7 separate regions of the Homo sapiens genome follow, and all the other regions are linked to region 4. Evidence: fine-mapped expression QTL. A gene starts in region 4. Each other region holds a variant in brackets. All regions are shown on one strand. Distances are between the middles of the regions.

The links. PIP is the estimated chance that this variant, and not a neighbour inherited with it, causes the effect. A credible set is the group of variants that fine-mapping cannot tell apart.
Region 1: its variant is the best candidate, but not a certain one, in a credible set for the expression of ZNF438 in whole blood (INTERVAL, PIP 0.51).
Region 2: its variant is the best candidate, but not a certain one, in a credible set for the expression of ZNF438 in unexposed skin (GTEx, PIP 0.61).
Region 3: its variant is the best candidate, but not a certain one, in a credible set for the expression of ZNF438 in anterior cingulate cortex (GTEx, PIP 0.63).
Region 5: its variant is the best candidate, but not a certain one, in a credible set for the expression of ZNF438 in whole blood (TOPMed, PIP 0.75).
Region 6: its variant is the best candidate, but not a certain one, in a credible set for the expression of ZNF438 in thyroid (GTEx, PIP 0.60).
Region 7: its variant is the best candidate, but not a certain one, in a credible set for the expression of ZNF438 in monocytes (Quach 2016, PIP 0.78).

Annotation. Positions count from the first base shown.
Region 1 is chr10:30,743,599-30,747,666 of GRCh38, forward strand. No RefSeq gene overlaps it. Among named protein-coding and RNA genes, the nearest start is that of LINC02644, 22 kb to the left of the region's middle. The variant C/T (reference allele first, on the strand shown) is at 1,546.
Region 2 is chr10:31,071,135-31,075,202 of GRCh38, forward strand. All of the region lies in intron 1 of LOC105376481 (a long non-coding RNA gene), which reads left to right. Among named protein-coding and RNA genes, the nearest start is that of ZNF438, 41 kb to the left of the region's middle. The variant A/T (reference allele first, on the strand shown) is at 1,854.
Region 3 is chr10:30,394,128-30,398,195 of GRCh38, forward strand. No RefSeq gene overlaps it. Among named protein-coding and RNA genes, the nearest start is that of MIR7162, 27 kb to the left of the region's middle. The variant GAC/G (reference allele first, on the strand shown) is at 2,283.
Region 4 is chr10:31,029,618-31,033,685 of GRCh38, forward strand. ZNF438 (zinc finger protein 438) reads right to left here and starts at 2,248. Exons shown (of 7, transcript NM_001143768.2): 1 at 2,216-2,248. LOC105376481 (a long non-coding RNA gene) reads left to right here and starts at 2,891. Exons shown (of 3, transcript XR_001747410.3): 1 at 2,891-4,068. RefSeq lists a silencer at 1,910-2,469.
Region 5 is chr10:30,967,574-30,971,641 of GRCh38, forward strand. The region is part of intron 2 of ZNF438 (zinc finger protein 438); the gene reads right to left. Among named protein-coding and RNA genes, the nearest start is that of ZNF438, 62 kb to the right of the region's middle. The variant A/C (reference allele first, on the strand shown) is at 2,392.
Region 6 is chr10:30,815,943-30,820,010 of GRCh38, forward strand. No RefSeq gene overlaps it. Among named protein-coding and RNA genes, the nearest start is that of LINC02644, 95 kb to the left of the region's middle. RefSeq lists enhancers at 1,794-2,715, 2,111-2,160. The variant C/A (reference allele first, on the strand shown) is at 2,168.
Region 7 is chr10:30,994,328-30,998,395 of GRCh38, forward strand. The region is part of intron 1 of ZNF438 (zinc finger protein 438); the gene reads right to left. Among named protein-coding and RNA genes, the nearest start is that of ZNF438, 36 kb to the right of the region's middle. The variant A/G (reference allele first, on the strand shown) is at 2,423.

The DNA of each region.
Region 1 (4,068 bases), 290 kb before region 4:
AAATAAGGAAACAGCTGTTTATGAAGGTACAGGGAACAAGGCAGTGGTCCCACAGCTGCCCCATTCTGGGATTCCCAGTCTGGTGCCAAAGCAAAACCCACACAGTCTGGACTATGGCCAGCACACATGCATGCACACAGATAGACTGTGGTTGGCATGTGCACACACACTTGGATGGGCATGGCTGGCACACACACACAAGTGATGCCTGTGGCTGGCACCCATGCATACAGGCACACACACAGGTGGATGGGTGTGGCTGACAAAGGAGATGGTGTTAATGGAACCTCCTTGATGAGGACGACCTCTACCATCCTTGCCGTGGCTTCTTTCCGGATAGACCTGGGGGTGTAGGGCTGGGTCTCATGGAGCCTCCAACCAGGGTGGATGTAGATCACCAACTCCAGCTCCAAGGCCAGGTTCCTTTCTTCTTGTATGTTGTTGTTGTTTTTAAGCACAAGACCCATTCTAGGCAACAGAGGCCCAGTTAGGATTTGCTTCACCACTTTATCTTGCATGGATAGAGATTTAATTAATCCTACCAGGATTCAGAGCTATTTTATGGGATATCCAAGTCTACTATTTCTCTCCAATTTATGATGAACTCTAAACCAAAACATATCCAGTACACTTCTTACATCTTCTTTCCAAGATGTGATCATCATAAATGATGCTCTTTAGAAAATTCCCTGGGCTCAGCTGACCCTGGTTTTCCTTCGCTGTATTTCCCCAAGATCATCTGATCATAAATAGAACTGCTAAGAAGTTCCCCTCCCATCCCCTTGTGACTGCAGAACCTTACAGCATGATATAATATAATATAATATGATATAATAGTCCAATATCCTGTATAAATTCTTCTAGTCTTTATAAGAATTCTGCTAACTTCCCTGGCTGAGGTTCTTCAACAATCCCATTGTTTCTTTCTCTCTGATAACAAACATAATGTATGTTTATGGTAGAATATTAGGAAAAGCACAGAGGAGAAAAATTAAAGATCAGGCCCTCTCTGAACATGCAGAGATAGTCACTGTAAATATTTTGGTGATTCTTTTCCTCCAAGCATACACAGTGTATCCTTCTCTTGTAAAATTGAGATCACATGATACAATGTTTTTTAAGTGACTTTTTGCATTAAGCAATGGATCCAAAACACATTCCACAACATGATTTGTGGGACTGTGTATTGTCACATTTCATGGATGTCTCAATACTTACTTAACCAGTCCCCTTATGCTGGACATGTGTTTTCTGTACAAATTTTGACAGTGCAAGTGGTGCTGTACTCAGCAACTCTCCACTAACTTTTTTCCTTAAAACAAATCCTAGAAGGAGGCTGGGCGCGGTGGCTCACACCTGTAATCCCAGCACTTTGGGAGGCCGAGGCGGGCAGATCACGAGGTCAGGAGATAGAGACCATCCTGGTAACACGGTGAAACCCCATCTCTACTAAAAATACAAAAAATTAGCCGGGAGTGGTGGCAGGCGCCTGTAGTTCCAGCTACTTGGGAGGCTGAGGCAGGAGAATGGCGTGAACCCGGGAGG[C/T]GGAGCTTGCAGTGAGCCGAGATCGCACCACTGCCCTCCAGCCTGGGAGACAGAACGAGATTCCATCTCAAAACAACAACAACAACAACAACAACAAAAAAAAAAAAAAAAAAAAAAAAAAACAGAAAAAAACAGAATAAATCCTAGAAGGGAAATGGCTGAGTCAAAGGAGATAGGATTTTTTGTTTGTTTTTTAGAAACAGGTCTCACTCTGTCGCCCAGGCTAGAGTGCAGTGGTACGATCCTAGCTCACTGCAGCCTCGTACTCCTGGGCTCAAGGGATCCTCCCGCCTCAGTCTCCTGAGTAGCTGGAACTACAGGTACACACCATGACATCTAGCTTTTTTTTTTTTTTTTTTTTTTTGAGACGGAGTCTACCTCTGTCGCCAGGCTGGAGTGCAGTGGCGCAATCTCCGCTCACTGTAATCTCTGCCTCATGGGTTCAAGCGATTCTCATGCCTCAGCCTCCCGAGTAGCTAAGATTACAGGCATGTGCCACCACTCCCAGCTAATTTTTGTATTTTTTTAGTGGAGACGGGGTTTTGTCGCCATGTTGCCCAGGATGTTATCCATCTCCTGACCTTGTGATCTGTCCGCCTTGGCCTCCCAGAGTACTGGGATTACAGGTGTGAACCACCACGCCCGGCAGCAAGATGGATTATTAACTCAATCTCCAGCTCCTCAGCTCTCCCCAGAGCTTGGAGGGCGAGGCTGAAAGTTCCAGGTTTCTAAACAACGTTTGGTCTTTCTGTGACTAGCCCCCATCCTGAAACCATCTGATCTGCCCGCCTCAGCCTCCCAAAGTGCTGGGATTACAGGCATGAGCCACTGCGCCTGGGCAACATCTAGCTAAATTTTTAAACTTTTTGTAGAGACAGTGTCTCACTATGTTGCCCAGGCTGGTCTCAAACTCCTGCCTCAGCATCCCAAAGTGCTAGGATTACATGAGCGCCCACAACACAGGTTTTGATACTTACTGCCAAATTGTTTTTCCCATGTCTCATAACAGAATGTACTTTTACAAGCAGCCTGTACAAGTGTCCATTTCACCAGACACTTGTCATCAGTGAGTGGTGGTTTCTTTTCTCTTGTCTCTAATTTTAAATGCAATAGTACACGTTCAATATAGTGAAATCCATCTTCAGACTGCATCGCCGTCCTGAGCAGCCCACAGATGCACAAAAGACAGCACTTCTGAATAACCACAGAAATAAATAGACGTATTTCAAGGCAAATGGAGTGCTGAAATAGGTTTTGTCAACCAAATGACAGAGCAAAACTATTTTTTTCTTTTGAGACAGGGTCTAACTCTGTCACCCAAGCTGCAGTGCAGTGGCATGATCTCTGCTCACTGCAGCCTCACTTCCCAGGAGCAAGTGATCTTCCTGCCTCAGCCCTACAAGTAGCTGGAGCTACAGTCATGTGCCACCACGCTCAGTTCATTTTTGTATTTTTTTGTAGAGACGGGGTTTTGCTATGTTACCCAGGCGGGTCGTGAACTACTGTGCTCAAGTGATCCACCCACCTTGACCTCCAAAAGTGCTGGGATTACAAGCGTGAGCCACTGCATCCGGCTAGAACAAAACTTTTTTTTTTTTTCCAGACGGAGTTTCGCTCTTGTTGCCGAGGCTGGAGTGCAATGGCGCAGTCTCGGCTCACTTCAATCTCTGCCTCCTGGGTTCAAGCAATTCTCCTGCCTCAGCCTCCCAAGTAGCTGGGATTACAGGCATGCGGCACCACTCCCAGCAAGTTTTTTGTATTTTCAGTGGAGACGGGGTTTCACCATGTTGGCCAGGCTGGTCTCAAACTCCTGACCTCAGGTGATCCACCCACTTCGGTCTCCCAAAGTGCTGGGATTACAGGCGTGAGCCACTGCGCCCGGCCACAAAACTATTTTTGTTCACACATTACAGATGACAGTGCGAAGCGTGGTCCTACCCCTATGTTTAAAATAACCTATTAGTGAGCAACAATGTCCCCAGCACTTATCACTCTTTCCACTCTGTTTCTGGTGGCATAGGCTTCACACTGCACAGGGTCACATTTTCAAATCTTATTCCAAGGTTTGTTCTCCCACCGTCTTATATCTCCTAGTTCTCACTTAAGGTCCTGCCAACTTATAGCTTTCTATGTCTTCCCTAAGCTGGGGAAAAAGGCAGGGTGGTAATGAAAGTTCTTGGCTGGGCGCAGTGGCTCATGCCTATAATCTCAGCACTTTGGGAGGCCAAGGCAGGCGGATCACTTGAGCCCCAGGAGTTTGAGACCAGCCTGGGCAATATGGCAAAACTCTGTCTCTACTAAAAATACACACAAACACACACACACACACTTAGCCTGGCATGGTGGTGCACGCCTATAGTCCCACCTACTTGGGAGGCTGAGATGGGAGGATGGCTTAAGCCCAGAAGTTTGAGGCTGCAGTGAGCCGTGACTGGACCACTGCACACCAGCCTGGGTGACAGGGCGAGACCCTGTCTCAAAAAAAAAAAAAAAAAAAAAAGACCTGGCAGGAGAGCAGTGTGG
Region 2 (4,068 bases), 42 kb after region 4:
ATGGGCAGTACCACTATGCAAACATGTGCAGGAAGATTCTATTCTGGGACCAAAAAGCTGGATGCTGGACAGTCCAGACCTCTCATTTTGCTAGTGAGAAATGAGGCTTTGAGAATGAAAATGACTTACCTAAAGGCTTGGGACCCATGCAGCACCTTGAACTCAGGTTCCGTAACTCTCACCACCCTGCCCATCTTTTCCATTATATGCCTGCATTCACTGAACTCTGGCTGGGCAGGTGAGCAGGTGACTTGGGGGAGTCGTGTGCCAGGCACACCTGAGCCTATGAATCACTTCCTGCTATTTCATACAGCCCCATTCACCGCATAGCCTCTCTTAAGGATCATACCATTTTAGTGGTATATTTCAGTCCCAAGACACTTGCAGTCAGTATTGGTGGCAGGATGGCTTCAGCACTTTTGAGAGCATCATGGCACATCTCTTACTCTGTTGATTTCATGCACCCTCTGATTATTGAATATCCCCCCGCTTAATTTTTCCACACCCATTTGCTATTTTTCAGCAACTGTTCTTACTCACTGTGGCCAAGGGGACCGACATTAAATTCCAACATTGCTTGTGGCAACTTTGAAGGGCTGAGGTAATGTAGCTGTGGAAATAAAGCAAGGTTTCTGGGGACAGATGTGAGTACACTCAGTCCAGTCGGGTTCCATTGGTATGTGCTGAGGTCATCAGCATAGGCTGGGACCTTCCTGGGAGACTAGACTTAGTCCCTGACCATAAGGACTGTGTTCCCAAAGAAGTTTCTGGGCTGTACTGGAACATCCTCAAGTTCTTTACACTTAAAAAAGAATAGCAATGCTCTGTAAGAGTCTGATGGGAGAAGTAGGAGGGTAAAATACTCTGAGCCCTTGTTAGTTCACCACCCAGTTGCCAGGTAGCATCAGAAACCACGAGGGAATATGTTTAAAAAGGCATCTCTCTTCTTCTCTATAGGTGACCTTCATTTCAGCATAAGTAGATATGAAGCTGTCTAATTGTCAGTTAAAACAAATCCTTTAAAGGAATTTATCTTCAGGTTGAAAAACTCTCCCAAACATCAAATGAGTATGCTTAGCTCCTAGCCAAAGACACTCTATTGCTCTACAGGGGGAAGATGGACCTTAGATTGCCCATGGTTTCTAGCCAAGTACGAGCAATTTGGCAAGTTTACCAGGGCAGGCTGCTAGATAATTCTTCTGAAAGTTGTCCTAGAATAGTGAAAGCTTTTACTCTAAAGGCTTTATCTAAGAAACCCTCAAAGATCCCACACCATAGCAAATGCCACATTTTTCTTTTTGGAACAGATAAATGATCCCATCAAGAATAGACCCTGTGGTTGCCAGGAGAAGAGAATGAAATTTTTAGTAGAAATGCAGTCATCACTTCACTCAGTAAGAAAGAAGGGGGAAAAGGTGTTAGTGGCATATAACCAACTATAATAGCCTCAGCTATGTGAAACTCTTTATACGTCTTGGAATTTTTGAAGCTGAAGTTGTCTATGCCAAGATACACTTGGGCAACACAACCTGAGAAAACAAAGTTTTAAATAAAGCATTCTGACATCTTTTGCTAATGACACATGCAATTTTATAATATACCAAGCTTACGTCTTTCCTTCCAGCTTAGGAGAGTGCAACACCATACATGTCTGGCCCCAAACCAGGAAGAAAGCTAGGCTTAACCTCACCCCCAGAGTCTCTGTGGCAGTGAATCCAAGAGGGCTAGACACACAGAGAGAATTATAATAATACAACACCCCCTCAAGCTGAGAGGTTGGGGGATGCTGTTCACATTCTCTAGGTTTTTAAATATAAATATGTACAAAGACTTGAGCAGGGAATGGACAATGC[A/T]GTTGTGAAGTCATTCTCGACCCCACATGAAAGTGGGGTAAGCTCTTCTTCATGCTTCAAGAAGTTACGCAGGAAAACCAAAGTCATCTTCCTGTAGGCTGATCACAGTGAGATCTCCATTTTGGCTCCAAGAGCCAGACTCAAAGTTAATATGATTTTCTACAGCTTAAACATTCCAATTAAATACCTGCATTTATTTTTTTGGAAGAAAGTAAGCAGAACATTTATTTCAGTTATAGAAATAAGCATGTCTTTGGCTTGTATTAAAGACTGTTGGTCTCCTAAGCTCTGTTCAAAATTCACAACACAGGAATTTACAGAATTTTCATAAAAGCAATTGAAATTACGCATCTCCATGAACTCCCAGGGTGAACTTCTATTAACAAAAGATGTTTTGCTTTACTCACACCTGCTCAGTTCTCCATGGGGGCTCAAGCGATACACATTCCAATAGAGCAGCGTCAATAAAATCAAATAAAAATGAAGTTCCAGGGAAGGGAGTGGAGATATAAAATATTACCGCAGAAAGTGCATTTGAGAAGAAGCCGAGCTATTGGAACTGGTTTTTAAAGGAGAAAATTGTTAGAGAAAAATAGATTTTCAGCCATAAATCATACAATTTTGACTCTTGTTGAGTACTCTACCAGGTAATCTTAACATACCTTCTCTATGTTTCTGTGTGTGTGTGTGTGTGTGTGTGTGTGTGTGTGTGTGTGCGTGCGCATGTGTGTAGGGTAGATATGGAAAAGGTACAAGGGATAGGGAAAGTTTAGAAGAGGTAGGAGAAAAGAACGAAGGAGCTAGCAAAATAGGAATTCTTTCTCTTTGCCTGTTACTGGAAAGAATTAAGGAAACTTTGTGAAGTCTGCCTAAGTTAATGTGTTTGTGTTTGTTAGATTATTGTCTTCAGAAAACTCATGTTTTCTTTGCTCGAAGTTCATGATATCCTACTTCTAAGAGGACCCTGTCTATGGGGAAACAAGGAAAGAATTTAATTCCTTCTAATTGCAACACATTCCATTTGATACCATATTGATATTTCTGAGGTTTTCATGTTGTTCTGAGAGTCCAAAAACATAAAGAGCCTGCTCGATGCAGAGTATTACATTAATAGCCGTCTTCCCTCCACATCCACAAATGACACAGATCACATTGGATTTCAACAGATAAGATCCCTTGCCCTTTAAGAGATGGCTGCTTATTGGAAGCAGAACAATGACAAATATACAAGTGACAGGAAAGTTTTATTTGTGAGAGGAAAAGTACTTTGTTATTTACAATCTCTTGCTGCTTTCAAAGGAAGCGGGGAGTCTCAAGAGGGCCCTCAGTGCACTAAAATCTCAGACTTCACCACTATACAACTCATCTATGTAACCAAAAACAATTTGTACCTCAAAAATGTTTGAAATAAAAGAAAATAGTTAAAAAAAAAAACTGGCCCCAAAATTAAGAGGGCTGTTTGCAGAGTGAAGTGCTGGGGATGAAGATGACAGATTGGAGGAATCTCTGGGGAGAGCTCTGCAGAGGAGAGGGGGGTATCGGATGGCAGGGTGGTGAGGGGAGACCCTGGAATCAGGAAGGACCCACATAGAGGAGCTGTAAACGGGAAAGAAAGGGAATGAGATGAGGCTCCAGGAGGGTGTTCCTGGATGAGCAGGTCTGTGCAAACCTACCCCAAAGGCCCAGGGAGCTGAGAAGCTGAAGAAAGAGGGTGATAAATCCAGTTTCTCAGAGAGAAATATTTAACAGGGACTTAAGAACAGAAGCCATGTCTCAGGCGGCCATGAGATGGTGGATCACTGCACGGTTACCCCGCAGACCCAGGGCTTATATACTATAGGGAATTTGCCTAAGGGCAGGATTTATGGTAAGTGTGTGTTTATGATAACAGCATGGTTATTTTGACCTAAGGGCAGGATTTACAGGAAGTATATGTGAAAGTAGAAATCCTAGAGGCAGGCTAGGTGCAGTGGCTCATGCCTGTAATTCCAGTGCTTTGGAAGGCCGAAGTGGGAGGATTGTTTGAGGCCAGGACTTCGACACCAGCAGGGACAACATAGTGAGACCTTGTCTTCACAAAAAGTTTTAAAAAATCAGCCAGGTGCAGTGGCCCATGCCTGTAGTCCCAGCTACTAGGGAGGCTGAGGTGGGAAGATTCCTTGAGCCTGGGAGTCTGAGACTACAGTAAACTGTGATCACACCACTGCACTTCAGC
Region 3 (4,068 bases), 640 kb before region 4:
AATGATCGTCACAAATATGTATGTAAGCAATTGGAAAATTGGGATGTAAATATATCAACTCTTAAAATATCATGTTTGGAGACAGGATTTTCCTTTTTTTTTTTCTTTTTTAATAAAGTAAATTTGCTATGGTTGGAATGCTTGTGTGTCCTCCAAAATTCATGTTGAAACTCACACCCCAGTGTGATAGTATTAAGAAGTGGAGTCTTTTTTTTTTTTTTTTGAGATGGAGTCTTGCTCTGTTTACAGGCTGCTGGAGTGCAGTGGCATGATTTCGACTCACTGCAACCTCTGCCTCCCGGGTTCAAGCAATTCCCCTGCCTCAGCCTCCCGAGTAGCTGGGACTACAGGTGTGCCATGCCCAGCTGATTTTTTGTATTTTAGTAGAGACGGGGTTTCACCATGTTGGCCAGGATGGTCTCAATCTCCTGACCTCATGATCTGCCCGCCTTGGCCTCCCAAAGTGTTGGGATTACAGGTAGCGTCTTTAGGAGATAATTAAGTCGTGAGGGAAGAGCCCCCTCATGAATGGGATAGTGACCTTATGAAAGGGCTTGAGGGAGCTGCCTAGCTCGGTTTCCTTCTTTTGCTTTTCTGTCCTTTCCACCATGTTGGGACACAGCATTCCTCATCTCTGGAAGACTCAGCATTTAAAGTGCCATCTTGGAAGCAGAGAGCAGCCCTCACTAGACTACAAATTTGCTGGCACCTTGATCTTGGACTTCCCACCCACCAGAACTGTGAGAAATAAATTTTTGTCCTTTACACATTACCCAGTCTCAGATATTTTGTTATAGCAGCACGAATGGACTAAGACAGTATCTTACATACAGTGAGATGCATATACCTTAAATTACAACTCCATACTATTTACATATGTGCACATTCATGTGACCACCACTCAGCTCAAGATACAGAATGCTTCCATCACCACAGAGGGCTCCCTCTTGCCCCTTCTCAGTTGCTGTCCTCCTCAAAGTTAACCACAATCCTGACGTCTGTCACCCTGGGTTAATTATGAATATAAATGGATTCATACAGTATGTGCATGTTTGTGGCTGACTTCTTTCATTCAACACAATCCTATGAGATTTAGCCATGTTTTGGGTATTGGTAGTTGTTTATTTTTCTGGTTGTGTAGTTTTCCATATTTCATTTATTATCCTTCTTTCTTTTTTTTTTTTTTTTTTTGAGACAGAGTCTCGCTCTGTCACCCAGGCTGGAATGCAGCGGCACGATCTCGGCTCACTGCAACCTCCACCACCTGGGGTCAAGCGATTCTCCTGCCTCAGCCTCCTGAGTAGCTGGGATTACAGGTGTGTGCCAGCATGCCCAGCTAATTTTTGTATTTTTAGTAGAGACAGGGTTTCACCATGCTGGCCGAACTCCTGACCTCATGATCCACCCACCTCGGCCTCTCAAAGTGCTGGGATTACAGGCATGAGCCATTGCAACCGGCTATTTATTACCCTTTTATTTTTATGTCTAACTCAGTGTCTTGTGGGGTCTATTGGTCCTTTTTAGCTAGATTGATATTAAAAATCTTCTTATCAATGGAGTTCAGGAAATTTTTAGAAGATAGAAGCCTAACAAACCCAAGCCCCCCAATCTTAAGCCAAGTTTCCTTCTCACACCTGCTTCAGTTGCTCTTCTTCATGTGGTATTTTTTTCCTCACAAAGCTGATGGGAAATCGAGGAACCCAAAAGCTCTTCATCATGTTATCAGCTTAGGGACGCTTGCCATCTGAATAACAGGGTAGATATTTATAATCTGAAATGTTAAAATAACAATAGGAAACACTTACATAGCACTAACTGCTGTTCAAAGTGCTTTACATATATTCTTTTCCTCAAAACAACTCTGTGAAATAGTATTATTGTCATCCCCACACTTTAGATGGGGAAATTGAGGCAGAGAGAGACCACGTAACTTTCCCAAGGGGGTAGGGCCAGGACGTGAAACTGTGTTTTCTTGTTTTAGAGCTTGCACACTTCACCACCACACCATATTGGGTAGCATGATACTTCATGTGGTTAAAGTATTTTCTTCTATTAGCTTGGGAGCATTTTCTGAATAATTCAAATCTTATAAATTTGCTTCAAAGAACATAAGTAAATTGAAATGGATGATCTGATATAGAATGTGTGGCATTCATGAATACATTATAGGACACTCCAGTTTTAAATAATAATTATTTGCCTATCTTGTGACTTTTGTCAGGCAGGGCTGTAATGTGCTAGCCTCATTTTCCTTCTCTTCAATAGGAGAAGATGGACTCAGA[GAC/G]AGGCACAATTTATCACAAAATCTCATCACACTTTCCCTCACCATCCGGAAGCTGGAGATAGGTTTGTGAAATCTTCGTTGTGAAAGAGTTGAATGACAGTTGTAGCATAGTGAGTTTAAGAAACATGGTTTTACTTGTCAGTTCTGTTGCACAGGGTCCTGCAAGTTTCGGCAGTTAACATATGTGACCAACAGTTTTCTCACAAAGATTATCAGGGTTCTAGAGGAAATTATCTTCCAGTTTTATTCTGCTGCTAATGTGCTATATTTCTTTATAGATTCTTGGCCACTTGTTTTTCATTAGACATTTTTCTGCCTCTTTATGCTGTACTTTATTTCTCTTTATGCCCAGCCCCAGGATTTTCCTTCTAATTGCAAGAGGAAGATTATTGAAATTTTCTCTTTCTCAAACTCCCAGGCTCAAGTGATCCTCCCCCGTCTGCCTCCCACCACTGCACCCTGCTGATTGTCTCTTTAACCTTCCCCCTGAGCATGTGTACACACACACACAAACATGAATACAGACACCCATCCACATGTACACACAAACACACAGAGACATACATATATCTACACACACTTATTAGATATACATTTACACACACACACACGTGCACACACACATATACACACCTTCCTTCTATCTTCTTCTCAGGACTCAGGATTCTCAGAGAGTGGAAAGAGTATTGCACCACGAGTCAAAGATAGACTGTGCAACTTTGCCCAAGTGCCTTTCCTTTTGAGATCTCATTTATAATAATAAACATCCTTACCCACCAATTAGGGTTATTTTGAAGATAAAACAGAAAGGAAGGATAACAGAATGATGGCATGTTGTATAGTAAAAAAAAATAAAATAAAATAATTAACAACCAAAAATAGGTCTGGCCTTTGTCCTTGACTCCTTATCTCCAACACGTAACGCCTGATAGGAATATTTTTGCCTGGGGATCTTGGGTCAGGATGGATAGTCTAATAATAAGATTTAGGGTGGAGACTAGCCAGGCCAGGAAAACCGACTATGTGATTTAGAGTCCTGGCTTTAGGTCACCCCTGAAAGGATTGGAGACTGGAAACTGAGAGCAGCCACATGGACAATCAAGCATGCCTCCGTGATGAAGTTCCAGTAAAAATCCTGAACACTGAGGCTTGAGGGAGCCTCACTGGCTGGAATACTCCATGTGTATTGGCACATATCAAAGCCAGGAGGGTAATGCACTCTGACTGCATGGGGAAGGGATAATGGACATTCCATATCTGGTGACCTCCTGGACTCAGCCCTATGCCTTTCTTCCACTACCTGATTTTAATCTATATATTTTCCCTATAATCAAACCATAACTGTGAGTATAACAGCTTTCTGTGAGTTCTAGCCAGTCCTTAGAGGTAAGCAAGCCGAGTTCATCTACTGCCTGCTGAAAAAACTATTTTAAAATTCCTAAACCAAAGAAGGCCAGAGCTCTCATGAATCTGATCCAACAGATTTTGAAGCCAAAGCTCCAAAGCTGAGGGTATTTGAAGCCAAAGCCAGGCCAGACAGAGATGAGGCTCCTGGGAGGGAACAGGTGCAGTCCTGTCCAGGGTGCAGTGTCCCTGGGCTATAGCTGGACAAGGGCTCCCTCTGGGTCACAGCTTCTAGGAACAGAGTTTGGGGCAAGCTGACTGTCTGATTTGTAGGACTCTGGTGATGATCTCAGCTGGGAAATTGTGTGGTAATGAAGAGAGATGGTTTTGCTTTTCCAAATCATCCACCCCCTGCATGCTTTGATCCACATTGGAACTCA
Region 4 (4,068 bases):
CTCCCGATTTTCACTCCATCCGACCCACTCTAATCTACAGTTAATTCTCCATACAATAAAACTTAAATCAGACACCAGTCCCTTGATGCAAACCTTCCAATGGTTTTCCATCACAGTTAGAACAACATCTTTACTTCACCACAGCCTACAAGGGACCCCACGGCCTGCCTGGCCCTTGACCATCATTGGCCACTACTTTCCCCGTTCCCGGCTGTGCTCTAAACACTCTCACTGTGTCTGGACCACCTCAGAGCATTGTCCTGTGCTGTTCCTGCTGTGAGGCCGAAAATACAGTCACCTGGAGCCTGGACTCTGAAGTCAGACTGCCCACGTTCAAATAGTCTCTACCACGTTTTAGCTGTGCAACTTTGGCAAATTCTTAACCTTTCTGTGTGTCAGTTGCCTCATCTATGAAAGGGAGATACTAGGTTACATCAAAAGACTTGTAAAAATTTAATTTAGTGTTCAGAATAGTGCCTTACATATGGTAAGCTCTACTTTTTTTAAGTGTTCATTGCTATTAATTATTCCTCTCTGAAATGTTCTTACCTCAGGCTCTTTCCCTCACACTTCAAGTGTCCCTGCCTTTGAATGGCTTTTCCTGACAGATCCCACCAAAAACAACCTTCCCTGTTCCCCCACTGTCCTCCTTTCTTCCTTCCCTTCACTGCACTTATGACTACCTGAAATTACATTATGCACGTATTGTTCGTTGTCTATTTCCCACTGCAATATGAGCCCTGCTAGGTTGGAGGCTGTCTTCTTTGCTGCTCTATTTCCAGAGATTTCTGACTCACATCTCATCCAGGCTAGGGGACCAATGCGAATCTCCTAATAACAATAGCACACTTAGCCTTTCATTTGCACTCTCGTGATCTCATTTGATCCTGGAAAAACCAACAAACAGATAAACCATCGGCTCTCATTTTAGATAAGAAAAACAAAGTTCCAAGTTTGCGTGACTTGTCCTTGGACACGAAGCTAGTTAACGAATAGAACAAAAATTAGAAGCCCTGCTTTCTGATTCAAAGGCTCTTCCTACCTGGATGAAAAGATATCACACTCCTGAAATGAATTTACAGAAATGTGAACTCTCGAGCTCCTGTATAAATACACCCTGAAGTGTGCACAGTATTCTTCCCTTCAAAGTTCCTGAAGACTACTAGTCCCGGAGTTTGAGAGGCATTATAGTCTAGTAATAACTAATCGATAATGTAGTACCCCTTGACCAAAATATTCAAGCAGTCAGATACGATGATTGGATATTCCAAATCGATACAGCAATCCTTAAAACTCAGTGAGTCTGTGTTGTCTATAATGTGCTAGTTCCAGCACACTGAAAGCTTCCTCTGCAAAACCCAGACAACGGGGGCATTGTAATTGCCAAGAGTACCGTGCTAACGATACCTGTTATTTCTTGGGATCCCCATTCTATCAAGTTTAGTGACAACAGTTCGATCACCCAACAGGCTCCAGTGTGGTATAGAATCAGATGGAGGGAAGGTTGTCGGGGGGAGGCAAAACAGTGAAAAAGTTCCCCTTCTACAAGATTCCTGGTCAAATAGCCAGTGGCTACCACATTCCTCAGAATAACCAAGTGTCTGTGTATAAGCTTTCTCCTAGCAAATTTACACACTTGTGTTATCTCACGTGTTCCTAGTGCTGTGGGAACAACCATTAGGGAGGCCAGAGGCTGCTGTACCTCCCTTTTACACAAAAAAGAAAACTGAGGCAGCAACTGGTTATCTTATAAATGTGTCCACGATGACTTGGTCACTTGTGGGATCCCAACGGCCAGGACATAGGATTCCTATTCTCTGAGAGGAAGCTTCCATCCCCTACTTAACATGTCAAACTCCAAGGCTGAGAGGGGGAAGAAAAGGAATCTAAGTCCCTTTATCACGGAAGAAAAAAAGGGACTCTCCATTTGGACTTTCCGCCCCTTCTAAGGCCTCGCTCCCAGGCTCGGAGACGCGCCCCGCCCCAGGGGAAAAGGTGCTGGCCCGGCCCCACGGGGCGCGGCCTCGCCTCCCGCACCCCAGGTCCCTACCGCCCAGCAGGGCGCGCTGCCACTCTGAGCAGACACCTGTCCCTTCGCCACAATCGGCGACTCCCCAAGGAACTGACGCCCCCAGAGCCACCACCACCGCCGGGACTGCCAGCTGCCAGCGGGCCCCGCAAGCCCTAGGAGCTGCAGGAATCCTCGTAAACTTACAGTTTTCCTACAGCGTGCGCGTCACAGCGGGGTGACGTCACGGGCCCAGCAGTCGGGGAGGTCAAGCCACGGGGCGCGGGCCGCTGGGCCCCCAGGCTCCGCCCTCGCCCCGCCCCGGCGCCGCGGCGGGAGACACGCCCCCGAGCTCCACGCCCTCGAGCTCCACGCACCTCCCCGTAGCAGACACCCCGCGCAGGCGCAGACGGCCTCTGCGCCCGCATGCCTGTGGGCTTCGCCGACCGGGGCGCCTGCGGCGGCGACTGCTCTACCAAAGCCTCACTCAAAGCCTGAAGTCGGGGTTAGAGGAGGAGGAGGGGCCGACAAAAGGGGACGGAGACCTTCAGAAATACTGTAAACAAGCTGTCGCCCTGGGGGCTGGAGTAAGACGCCTGGGTTGTGAGGTAGTTTTTCCACAGACATTGCCCGCCTTCCTCACGTGTTCGTTAAAAGTTCTCCACGTGTGGAAACAGCCATTTGCTCTCCATCAGGTGCTGGCGGGTCCTCAGCCCTGAAAAGACAGCTCTCCCAGGGTCCCTCGCTCCTCCCCGGCTCGACGCGGCTCCCGCTAGACTCCGCCCAGACCCCGAGCAGTCCCCGCCCATCTCTTGACTATGCCCCTCCCACGCCCACTTAGGCCTTGCCCCTGGGTCCCGCCCTTCCGGCTCCCGCCCCTGGCTCCCGGCTCCCGCGGGCCCCCACCTGCCCTTCTTGCCCTGGCGCCGCCTCCAGCCCAGCCCGTTTCTTGCAGATTTTAGCTTCTCCCTTGCCTGCCGCCTTTCCCGTTTCGGCTCGGTGAAGCTACCTATGGGTTGCTGTTCATTTAACAAACGGTGATCCGGATAAACATGTTCACTTCTTCGCCTGGGCAAACTTTCCAGCCCCCGACCCACTCATGTCACGATACCTTCCCGTGTCCAAGTCCGGCTCTCTGCTCCCCACTTTTTTTTTTTTTTTTTTTTGAGACAGAGTGTTTCTCTGTCTCCCAGGCTGGAGTGCAGTGGCGCGATCTCAACTCACAGTACCCCCTGCCTCCCGGGTTCAAACGATTTTCTTGCCTCAGCCTCCTGAGTAGCTGGGATTACAGGCGCGCGCCACCACAGCCGGCTAATTTTTATGTTTTAGTAGAGACAGGGTTTCACCATGTTGGCCAGGATGGTCTCCATCTCTTGACCTCGTGATCCGCCCGCCTCGGCCTCTCAAGGTGCTGGGATTACAGGTGTGAGCCGCCGCGCCCGGCCTCTTTGCTCTTTTATACTCTCAGAAGCAATGAGTTCTGGTTAAAAAAAAGGGCTCGATAGACGGAAAAAATGAAGGCTTAAAGAACTGACAACAAAATATTAACATTTGGCTTGTGGAATTCTTACACTCTCGTAAGCAGAAAAAACAAATGTTATGGCAAAAAAGTGTCTCAGACAAATCCGTCTTGGGGGGAAAAAAATTAAAAGAATGAGAAAAACAGACTTCGGAATAAATAGACCCAAAGGAGGAAGTATTGAAAATGGCAAGATTCACTTTTACAAACTTATTTGGAACCACGGCAGATGGCCAGGGCAGGGATTTTGCAAGGCAGCTCCAGTTGTAAGTAAAACCTGAAACAATGGTTTATTTCCACTCTCATTGAAAGTGCTGTCTTATTTTTACAGGAAAGAGTGATGATGGGAATATTAGGCTTTAATTCGAGATCTGAGCTGGTTAAAAATAAAAACGTTTATTATTCCAGAAAAATCTACGTCAGTGTTTTTAAATGTTCTGATTTGAAAAAATATTTGTATATTTTATCTGAATATTAGTTATTATCAAATGATGTAAAAGAAATTTGTAAAGGCTGTACCATAATTGTAACAATAAGGTTT
Region 5 (4,068 bases), 62 kb before region 4:
AAAAATCTACAAAATTAACCTGACAACAAATATGGCTGCTAAATTTTAATTTTAAAACTAATATGTTACTGCTCTGGTGTTGTTTTAAATTAAAGGATTTCTTCTGGGACTGCAAAGGAATGAATATTTAGCCTATCTCATGAAGGAAGGAGCGATTTCTTGTCTTAAAAACAGGAGGTTCGCCTACAAGATCACCTGGGACACACTTGGCCAGTGCAAGCAGGCCAGAAGGTTACTGGAGCCTGGGAATGTTTAACATCAAGAAAGGAATTACAACTCAGTAAGATCAGAAGGAACTACACAGGAAATGTGAACAGTAACCCTTTCATAGCTCTGTACCCCCTCCCACTGCCTGTGATAAATGAAGTCCTGCTGCTGCCCAGTTATGTGAATATACAAGCCAGGAGCAGAGAGGGATGGAGAAAAAGGGGAAAAAAAGACATTTTATATATATATACACAGAGCACAGCATAAATTTATAACGGCATGATAAAATCATGCTGTTCCGCAAAACAGCCTCTAGCCTAATTGCTACATATGTACTATATCACTGCCTTACCCAACAGTGCCCTAAGTAAAAATTCCAAAGACACTTGAAGGATCAGGCAGCGGTAGGTTGATGGGATAGTTGGCAAACTCATCCTAAGTAGGGAAACGTGGCTCCTATAAAGCTGACCAAACAGGTCTCCACCCTGGCTTATGTTTAAACATCTTGTTCCTAGTCAGTCTGTAGGGAAAGCATTCTTTCCACAATAACACACAATCAAATCAGAAATTCCTACTCCATCCTTTATCTACTCTATGTAAAAGTTTCTTCAATATTCTAAGCCAGAAGCTTAGAGAATTTAACTGAATGTAAACTTTTTTTTTTTTTTTTTTTTTTTTTTGAGACGGAGTTTCGCTCTTGTTGCCCAGGCTGGAGTGCAATGGTGTGATCTCGGCTCACCACAACCTCCACCTCCCGGGTTCAAGCGATTCTCCTGTCTCAGCCTCCTGAGAAGCTGGGATTACAAACATGCACCACCACACCTGGCTAATTTTGTATTTTTAGTAGAGATGGGGTTTCTCCATGTTGGTCTGGCTAGCTCAAACTCCCGACCTCAGGTTATCCGCCCACCTAGCCCTCCCAAAGTGCTGGGATTACAGGCGTGAGCCACCGTGCCCAGCCTCTGATTGTAAACTTTATTATAGCCTAGCTATAGTGAAGGCATGGTAAAATATTTCTAGCTGTTACTTGGAAAAGCAGATGTGACCATACAGATCTTAGATACCTTTAGAGACCCGTGGTTGGGATCTGAAGAAAACAAGACACTTACCACAACTGCCTCTGGATAAAGGGGAAATGCTCAGTTTCCACAAACCAGTGAGTATGAGAGCTATTAACTGTAAAAATACACACAGTCCTCAGATGGTGAGGGCATGGGTTAGGGTAACAAAAATACAATGGAGAAAAAAGTGGCATTTCCAATGTGACACATTTAAAATATGGAATGGAATTTCATGGGTCACTTGGAAATAAGATTTTTTTTTCATTGGTATAACTTCAGGCTAGAGATGGTTTGCCACAGAGTAAGTCAAAAAAAATAAAAGAATATGGAGATGACGATGAAAATGACAACTGCCAATAAAAGTCAAAAGGATAGATTTTGAGAACTCTCCAGAAGAGGGAACAAAAAAATCAAAAGATTTTTTCCCTTGGCAAAGTGCCCCCTCCAAAGCACACATAGTCTGCTTCAACCAACAGCCTATACCCACAGTGTTTTCATATACTAAATGGCATATCACTAAATAACAGTAAATGAGATTAAACTGTAGACTTCCTAGTTGCCTTAAACAACTGATGGTTAATTTCTTGAACACTGAATAACAAATATGCAGTCTCATGACACTGTAAGAAGCTAAAGGTGCTCATTCTTTCCATGAATTCTAAATTGCTATAATACTTATATTAGGAAAACAGAACAGTGGGAAGGAAAATTTTAAACAAACCCAGAATAAACCACACTTTTGATTGGGTTTCCAGCAATAATCAGTTCCCCATTAGAATGTGGACCCCGAAGTATACCAAATGCAAGCTCAGTGGAGCTCAGTCTCCTCAGCTGAAAATGAGAGCTTACTCTGGAAATGAGCACTTCTTAACATTTTTAACCCATGTTCCATCCTATTAAACATAAAAACCTCATACTCCCATTGAATGTTATTTGTGACTTCATAACCAAAACCAAAACCAAACCAAAGCAAGGTAAGTTTTTATTGTTTTTTTTTCAGTGTCTCATCATAACCATTTACAAATTCATTTATTTACAAATACTTGCATAAATGGACAGATATTAATAATTAATGCTTTTTTAAATCTTGAAGACAAAAAAGATTTTAAAAAGCCTATGAAGA[A/C]TAATGATGACAATGAAATGATATTTACTGAGACCTTTGGCAAATGATATTTACTGGGACCTTCTTCTCTCCTCCAGAGTTACTATTAATATAAATGATCCTTTCTTTACTAGCATTCAGCCAGAAGAAATGCTGGCTGATACACACACACACACACACACACACACACACACACACACATATACACACACACACATATATTAGGCCTTCAATATTTGTTAAATGTTAAAAGAGGTGATAGGTCCTCTTTTACTATTCTGAAAATAACAGAACCCTAATATAGTAACCTTTCTCAAGTAATAAAGGATAGAAGCAAGTAGGTTAAGTCTTTGGTATAGAGGTGAACTGTAGAAGCTTTTGACAACAGTTATGTTAATGAAAACAGTAAGAACACCACCTAATACTAGCACATTTATAAAACACTTAGCAATGTCTAACGTACTTTATGTAATTTCGACCCTACAGCTGTATGAAGTGAATATTATTATTTGATTAAAACAGTGTCATGAAGCTGTTCAAAGTCACACAGCTAGTTAAGCAGCAGAGCTCAGACTTAAAACTCTCTGAGAGCTATCCCATTCACTAACAGCTCTTTATTTTGTCATGAAATGTGGAAAATATCCTCATCCAAACTCCAAAATCAGCATATACATAAGCACAACCTTTTTTTCTCTCAACCTACCCAATACCCCTTTCTACCAATTCCCATAAAAATTCTTGGAGTTCCTATTGCAGCGTCTTTATGTCTTCATACTGGTATGACCAAGGGCACAATGGAAGACTTCTTTCAAAAGGGAACCACCTTCAATCTAAGTCTTGTCTCCTATAACTGTCCCCAAAATGGACATCATCACAGGCATAGGCTTTTCAAACCATTAACTAGTGAGGAAATGTCTGGGGTTGTCTGTTCCTCATTTAAAATCAGTCAAATAGGACACATACTACCACTTCATTCCTAAAAGTTGAGCAAGAATCATCCTCATATCTCCAGCTTTCTGGTTTAGCAAGCAGACACCCGACTCTGGGGACTTGGTAAAGGCCAACTGCACAAGAATAAAAAGTGTAACAGAACTGGCAGTTACAGTCTTAGCAATTTTAAAAAATCATTCCAAATGTTTTGGTAGAAATCTTATTAAAGAATGCTAAACTACTGGCATTAGTAATTTACTGTAAATGAAAGGTATACTAAAGGTAGAATTTTATTCATATAAAATAAACTATTTTACTTCTGAAGGTTATTATGAAGATGAGGCTAAATTATATGAAAAATGCTAAGCATCCCGCCTAGCTCATAGTAACTACGCAGTAAGTGTCAGCTGCTATTAGTAATACTGCAGAAGTATTAAAAATAAAACATAACAACGGAAGGCCATATTTAAAATGAACCAGCAATCAACATTCTGTGTTTAAACATCAACAAAAAACATATCCATCTGTGGTATGTATACATATATATGCATAAAAATATTTAGAAGACAATTTGGAAGAATAAATAGCAAAATGATGATCTCTGGGGAGACAGAAGGGTGGTAGTCAAATGGAACTTTAGCCTGACATAAATGCTTTTTGTTTTTTAACAAAGTATTCATGAATTTCCTCTGTAAATAATTTTATTTTAAAAAGAAAAATCATAGTTTCTTCAATTCCATAGTTGATTTCAGTATTACATGAAAAAAA
Region 6 (4,068 bases), 210 kb before region 4:
GCTCAAGACCAGCCTGGCCAACATGGTGAAGCCCTATCACTACTCAAAATACAAAAATTAGCCTGGCGTGGTGGCAGGCACTTGTAATCCCAGCTACTCAGGAGGCTTAGGCAGGAGAATTACTTGAACCCAGGAGGCTGAGATGGTGCCATTGCACTCCAGCCTGGGTGATAGAGTGAGTGAGACCCTACCTCAAAAAAAAAAGCATGGCACCAGCACTTGCTTCTGGTGAGGCCTCAGGAACCTTCTACCACTCATGGCAGAAGGGGAAGGGGGGGAACAGGCATGTCACATGACAGGAGAGGGAGCAAGAGAGATAAAAGAGGAGGTGTCAGTTTCCCTTAAACAACCAGCTCTTATGTGAACTAATAGAGCGAGAACTCACTCATTACCGTGGGAGGGAGGCATCTGCCCCCGTGACCCAAACACCTCCCATCAGGCCCCGCCTCCAACATCAGGGATCACATTTCAACATGAGATTTGGAGGGGACAAACATATAAACTGTATCAGCAGGTAAAGGAGGACTGAAGCTATAGACTCAGGGAAATCCAGAATTCTTGGAAAGTACACCTCCTAATTGCCAGACAGCAGGTCACTGGGGCTGGGAGACAGAGCTGATGGTCCCCCGAAGTGACAGGCCTGCGGACGTGTAAGAAAGTCTAAGGATGAAGAGCAAATAGGCTGTGCGTAGCTCCCTACCCAGCCTTCCCATCTGGCTTCTTTCTCTTTGCATTCCAAGGCCTGGATTTAATTCACTGGATGAGATTATGTTAATACGTCCTGTTCCCAAGTACACCTTTGGCAGAAGCTGTATTTAAACTAAAATGTAAGAGAGAACTCCTTCAGTTAACTCAAAATAGGTCTCCCTTTGACCCCTTAATGCTGCAGTTTGACACAAGACTCTGCATACACAAGTGGTCAGGCTTAAATAATGTAAAACGTTCTATTTTCTGACTATGGCTCCAATCTGGTTTAGGCGAGAGGGCTGTGTACATTTATCACTCTCCTGCAGAGAGTAATAATAGTCCCTGGGACTTGGTGAGGGCTCATTATGTGTCAGGCACTATTCTAAGAACTTGACGTATTAACTCCTTTCACCCTGTGAGCCAGGGACTGTTACTACTCCCATTTTACAGAGAGGCTAAATCATACCCAAGGTCACACAGCCAGCAAGGTGTAGAGCTGGGGTTTCAAGTCTTTAACTCACTACACTGCCTCCTTGGGGAGAAGGTTTAAGACCTGTATCCTTTCTGGTCATATGCTCAGAAAACAAAACAAAACAAAACAAAACAAAAACAAAAAAAACACCAGACGTGTGGATTTTCAGCCAAATATTTTTCAGTATGGATTTATGGATTGAGGTTACCAAAAAGTCTCCTCTAGAGGCCGGGCACGGTGGCTCATGCCTATAATCCCAGCACTTTGGGAGGCCAAGGTGGGTGGATCACGAGTTCAGGAGTTTAAGACCAGCCTGGCCCAGATGGTGAAACCCCGTCTCTACTAAAAAATACAAAAATATTAGCTGGACATGGTGGCGGGTGCCTGTAATCCCTGCTACTTGGAAAACTGAGGCAGAGAATTGCTTGAACCCGGGAGGCGGAGGTTGCAGTGAGCCAAGATTGCGCCATTACACTCTAGCCTGGGCAACAGAGCAAGACTCTGTCTCAAAAATCAAACAAACAAACAAAGTTTCCTCTAGAATAACATGGGAATCTAAACATCTAGAGGACTCTCCAGGTGGCTGGGTTTTAGGTATGTGACCATGGCCCTCAAAAAACGAGACTGAGGCATGTGTCTGTGATCCCCGAGCCCCCCCACTGGGGAGAGGGCCAGGAGAGAGGGAGAAGGGAGCTCAGGAGTTGAGAAATCCCTTCTTCAACCTTCATCCTAGGGTTAGATGCTGGAGAGAGAACCAGTCCAAAGCTCTGTCCCGTGAGCTGCCAGGGAACCCCATGCATGGTACTGGGGTATTGGAGGGAAGCTGGTTCAACTCACTCCTCAAAGTCAACCCAACCACGGTGCAGAGGGACCCATTTTGTGCAGAACTGCAGTACTGTGCAGTTTTGGACCTGTCCTTTGGACCTGAAATCAAGGCAGGCTGTGGAGTCCACTCTGCAAGCTCTCGTGTCTGTTCATTGAGTTACCAGCAGCTTCCTGCCACTGGCC[C/A]GTGTAGCCCTTGGTCAACAGGCCATGACTACAGCTACTGGCCTGGAGCCAGTGCTGTCGACAGGAGGAAGTGGGCTGGGGCTTGGCTTCTAAGGCTGTAGGGGCTGATAAGTGGCCAAGCAGGACCCTGCTCATGCAGCCTTGACCCAGAGGCATCCCTGCAGGCTGGCGGGTGGAGGGGCTGACCTCACTGCCCTCGGGCTCGTCTGGCCTCCTCTGGCCTCGCCCTCTCTGGCGGGTCCCCTTCCCTCTGGGTGCTCCAAGTGCTGGTGAATCCAACCTGCTCTCTCCAGCCAACCCCTCTCCTCTCACCTCCTGACATACAACTGTCCACCTGACATGTTCAAACGTCACTGCCCCACCAGGCCTGCTCATCCGGCAAACTCCCCAGCTCAGCTGATGTAGGCACGGCTTTGCTAACCTCAGCTCCAGAGGTGGCGGGGGAGGAGGGTCAGCTAGGGAAGCCCCAGCTGTGACAGAGACACTTTTTCCTCCTCTCTCTAGATCTCAGGAAAGCTCAGAGACCCAGGACCCACCTAGGAAGGTGGCTGTTTTCAAGGAAGAGGGGCAGTTGGTAACTTGCCAGTCACAGACTGGACTGGCGGGGAAAGGTTGGAAACTCCTGAGAGATGGGCAGGTGAGGAGTCCCTTGGCCTCCCCCAGCACAGAACAGACAGCCACCCTGGTGTCCTCTTGTGTCTCTGCAATACAGTGAGCTCCTGAGGGCAGGACCTGCGTGAGTGGAGCTCGGAACCTCGCACAGGGCAGGTGCTCACTAAGGGCTTGCAGGCAAGCTAGGCAATGGCCTCTGGGGACACTCCCTACGACGCCTGCACGTTTTTAGCAATGAGCAAACACTCTGCAGGGGTGTCTGAGTAGAAGCTGTGGGCTCCCCAAATCTTGCCGCGTGGTTGGTTTCTTGGGATCCGCCAGTTCTGTTCGAGGGCAGTCAGCCGCGTCTGCCGCAAGGCTATTCCAGAGTGGCCCCACCGCTCCACCCACTCTGGGTAACTCATGGGCACACCCTGGAAACCAGAAAAACAGTGGAGCTCTGCCTGTCCCCGAAGGAAAGAATTACATTGCCGCAAGCAATTTGGAAAGGAGCAAGGAGCTTGGAAACTCGGAGCAAGCGGAATCATCTCCTACCGCCCCGCTTCTGCTCGGCTCAGGGCGCACGATGAAAAGGCTGAATTTGTCACATTTCCCCACACTCAGTCCCAAACAGGCTATCCCAGTCGTCTCTCCCTCCGGAGGAGACCCCTTCCCCTTCACAGCTCCCTTGCAGCTCTCTTTTTTTCTGCTAGCTTGCAGCTTTAAGGGGTAGGAGTCCGATTCTGAAGCTTGAAGCCTGGGCCACTTTTCCACAGGGTGCTTGGCATTGCCGGGGACCAGAACTGTAACCGCCCGGAGCTGTACGAACCTGCACACAGTCTCTGCCCAGCCGCCCAGAGTCCATCCTGGCCTTTCTCTCCAGTTTCCTCCCTTCATGGTCCCAGGCTTTTTCCCCAAAATGAGAGAAGTCCCCAGCTTGGAATCCCAGAGACCTGCAAAGCCGTAAGGAACGGCTCCATTTTGCATGACGCTAGTTAGCCAGCAGATCACTGGAAAACTCAACTACATTTCAAGCAAGCAAGTTGGAAAGAATGTTGGGCTTCCCTGGGATTTAATATGACAGGTTTCTGGCTCTGTGAATTTAGATAAGATTAACTCTTCATTCTTAAGGAAAGAAAAAAAACCCCAGCTCTCTGCAATATCAGTTTAGGGGGAAAATGTGCTGCTTTGAAAGCATCGAAGGCAGTCCGATTTGCACGTCCCCTCTTTCTGGGGCTGCATACTTTCTGTGTCTGATAATATGTTTGTTATACCTCGTCTCTGCCAGGGACACATACAGTAAATTGTCA
Region 7 (4,068 bases), 35 kb before region 4:
ATGCAGAAGTATTGAGAAGTAGTACTTTTAAGAGGTGACTGGGTCATGAGGGTTCTGCTCTCATGAATGGATTAGTAGATTAATAAGTTACTGGATTAATGGGTTATCACGCAGGTAGGCTAGCTATCACAAGAGTGCATCTGTTTATAAAATCCAGTTTTGTTCTCACTCATGTGCCCTCTCAGCATGTGATGCTCTGTGCCACCTTGGGACTCTGTAGAGAATTCCCACCAGCAAGAAGGCCCTCACCAGAGGCTCGCACCATGCTCTTGGACTTCTCAGCTTCCAGAACCATAAGAAATAAATTTCTTTTCCTTATTGGTATTGGTCTTTGGTATTCTGTTACAGTAACAGAAAATGGACTAAAACAGATGCCATTAGGAGAAAAAAGAGGCAGAAATAATACTTAAAGAAATAATGAGGCTAGGCATGGCGGCTCACATCTGTACCTCCAGCATCTTGGGAGGCCGAGGTGGGAGGATTGCTTGAGCCCAGGAATTTGATACCAGCCTAGGAAACATGGTGAGACCCTGTCTCTATAAAAAATATTAAAAATTAACCAGGCAGGGTGAAACACACCTGTAGTTCCAGCTACTCAGGAGGCTGAGGTGGGAGGACTGCTTAAGCCTGCAGTGAGGTAGAGCCTGCAGTGAGCTGAGATCATGCCACTATACTCCAGCCTGGGTGAGAGAGTGAGACCCTATCTCAGAGAGAGGAAAAAAAAAAATGAATGAAAAAGAACAAAAAATAAATAAATAATGGTTGAAATCTTTCCAAATTTGATAAAAGAAAAAGAAATATGAATCTACACATCCCCCAAGGAGCTCAACAAATTCTAAATAGGATAAATACAAAGAGATATACTTCCAGACACATTACAGGCAAAATCTTGAGAGCCAAAGACAAGGAGAAAATCTTGAAAGCAGCAAGAGCAAAATGACCAGACAAGTACAAAGCAGCCCCCAATACGATTAACAGCTGACTTCTCATTAGAAACAAGGGAGGCCAGAAAGCAATGGAATTAAATATTCAAAGTACTAAAGTAAAATACTGTGAATTATGACTCTAATATCCAGCAATACTGTGTTTTTAAAATAAAGGTCAAATTAAGGCATCCCCAGAAAAATAAAGACAGAAAATTTGTTGCTAGAATATCTGTTTCACAAGAAATACTAAAGGAAATTCTTCAGGCTAAAAGCAAGTAACACCAAACAGTAATTGGAAGCCCCAAAAAACAAAGCATGCCAGTAAAGGAAATTACGTACATTATTGCAAAAGACACTGTAATTGCATATTTCTTCCCCTTTCTTCTCTTAACTGATTTAAAGAATAATTCAATAAAACACTGTAGCTATAATTTAATTATTGGGCTAACAACATTTACTGCTATACATTTAGACAATAACAGCACAAAAGAAGCAGGTGAGAACAAAGTTCTTCGGGAGTAAGAAAATGACCCCAGAGCTAACTCAAATATGCAGAAATATGTAAAGAAAATAAAAAATAGAGAGGTCAATACAACTAACTATAAATACGTACTTGCTCTCCCTTGTCTCAGCTTCTTCAAAAGACATAAAGTAAAAATTACAACAGTGTGTTGTTGGGTTTGACATAATAGGTACATCAATAATAGCAGAAAAAGTTGGGGAAGGAAATGGAGCTAACAGAGGAAGTCTATTTTGCTGAAAGTAAGTATAAATCAGAAGTGAAATTCTTATAAATCGGGATGTACACTGTAAACCCTGGAGCAACCACTAAGAAAATAACTCAAAATATATATTTTTAAAAGTAGCAAAGGAATTAAAGCATCACACTACAATATATCTACTTAATTCAAAAGAAGGCAAGAAAGGAAAGAACAAAAAAGACCTGAGACCTATAGAAAACAAAATTCGTAACTGCAGACAAAAATCCAACTATATCAGTAATCACATTAAATGTGAACAGATGAAGCAATCTAATCAAAAGAAAGATTATCAGGCTGTATTTTTATAAAAGAAAAAGAACAAAGATCCCAACTATATAAAATCTACAGAAGACACATTTTAGGTTCAATCATACAAATAGGTTGAAAGTAAAAGCTATACCATACAAACAGTAAACATAAAAGAATCAGGCAAAATACATTTTAAAGCAAGAATATAATACTAGAAATAAAGAGAAACACTTCATAATGACAGAAGGGTCAATCCATCAGGAAGGTATAACAATTAGAAGCATATATGCACTTAACAAGAGAAGGAAGAAAAGACAGTTGAAGGGATACACAATTGAAAAATAATAATTGGAGACTTCCCTCTTTCAATACTAGATAAAACCACCAGGAAGAAAATCAACAAGAATACAGAAGATTTGAACAACACTGTAAGACAGCCAGACCTACAGACAACTATATAACACTCCACTCAACAAGGCAATATGC[A/G]TTATTAAGTGCACATGAAACATTTTCCAAAAGAGACCACATGCTAGGCCATAAACAACCTTCAATAATTTAAAGAGATTAATCACACAAAGAATGTTCTCTGAAACAATGGCATGCAATTAGAATACAAATCAGTAACAGAAGGAATTTTAGGAAATTCACAAAGATGGGAGGGAACCACACTCCTAAATAACCAATGGGTCAAAGAAATCAGAGAGAAAATTAGAAAATACCTTGAGATTAGTGAGAACTAAAACTCAACATACCAAAATTTATTGGATACAGCTAAAGAAAATAATACCCAGAAAGACATTTGTAGCTATAAATGCCTATATTAAAAAAGAAAGATCTCAAGTGGATAATCTAATCTTCCACCTTAAGACAGAACCTACAAAAAGAAAAGCAAACTAAACCTAAGCAAGCAGACGGAAGGAAATAATAAAGAATAATGTACAAACAAATGAAACAGAGAATGGAAAATCCAGAAAACAAAGACACTGGCAAAGGATTTGGGAATCAGGTGGTTATTGCTGTTGATAGAAAGGAAGGTTCTTATTAGGAGGAACAAAATCCAGATTGCAAGGAATTTAAGGAATAAATGGGAGGGGAAAAAAATGAAGGCAGCATATGCAGACTCTTCTTTCAATAAGCCTGAAGAAAAAGAATGAGAAGACTGAAAATGAACGCAAAAAGAAATTATTAACAAAGTCTTCTAAGAGGCAGAAAGGAATTAAAGCTCTAGGCAAATAAATTGGCCTTGGAAGATACGGCAGACACTAGTGGTTGCCTACCTAGTCTTCCCTTCTTTCTGAATAACAAAATCCTATTTTTTTTTTTTTTTTACCTTGGGAGGAGTGAAGGGCCATGAATCTTGACTAGTCTAAGCCAAACACAGGACTTCCGTACCCCTCACCACTGACTGGCTTAGAAACGGGTATAGGATGCAATTTTAGCTAATGAGGTCATGTTTTCTAGGAGGCTTCTAAGAAAGTTTTCTTCATTTTAAAAAAAGACATAAGAGAGACACCTTCTTTTCTTACAGTCATGGGTGCTTTGATATGAGTATGTCATTCTTGGAGTTAAAGCTGCCATCTTGAGATGAGGAGGGGAAAAGTCTGAAGACAAAAGCCAACTTATCAGGATGGTAGAATGAAAAGACAGAGCCAGAGAGTCTGATGATAAGAGTTAGCTGCTATATAAGCCAACAAAAAAACTATCTTTCTTCCAGATTTCTAGTTATATGAGACAATAAAATGCAGTTATTACATACGATACTTTCAGTTGGGTCTCTGTCACTTACCAGCTGAAAGCATTCTAACTGATATAGAAAGAAAGATACTTTCACAAGACAGATGTGGATGAAATTAACTTTGCATGTTGGAGATAAGGGAATTTGAGAGTTTCAGCCTAAAGTTTCATTTATTAAAGAAAATGAAACTCATATAGATCCATTTTACAAAGGGAGTGACCTTAACAGCTGCTGTTTCTTGCTTTAAAATATCAAGTATTGGCTGGGCGCAGTGGCTCATGCCTGTAATCCTAGCACTTTGGGAGGCCGAGGCGGGTGGATCATGAGGTCAGGAGTTTGAGACCATCCTGGCTAACACAGTGAAACCCCGTCTCTACTAAGAAAAATACAAAAAATT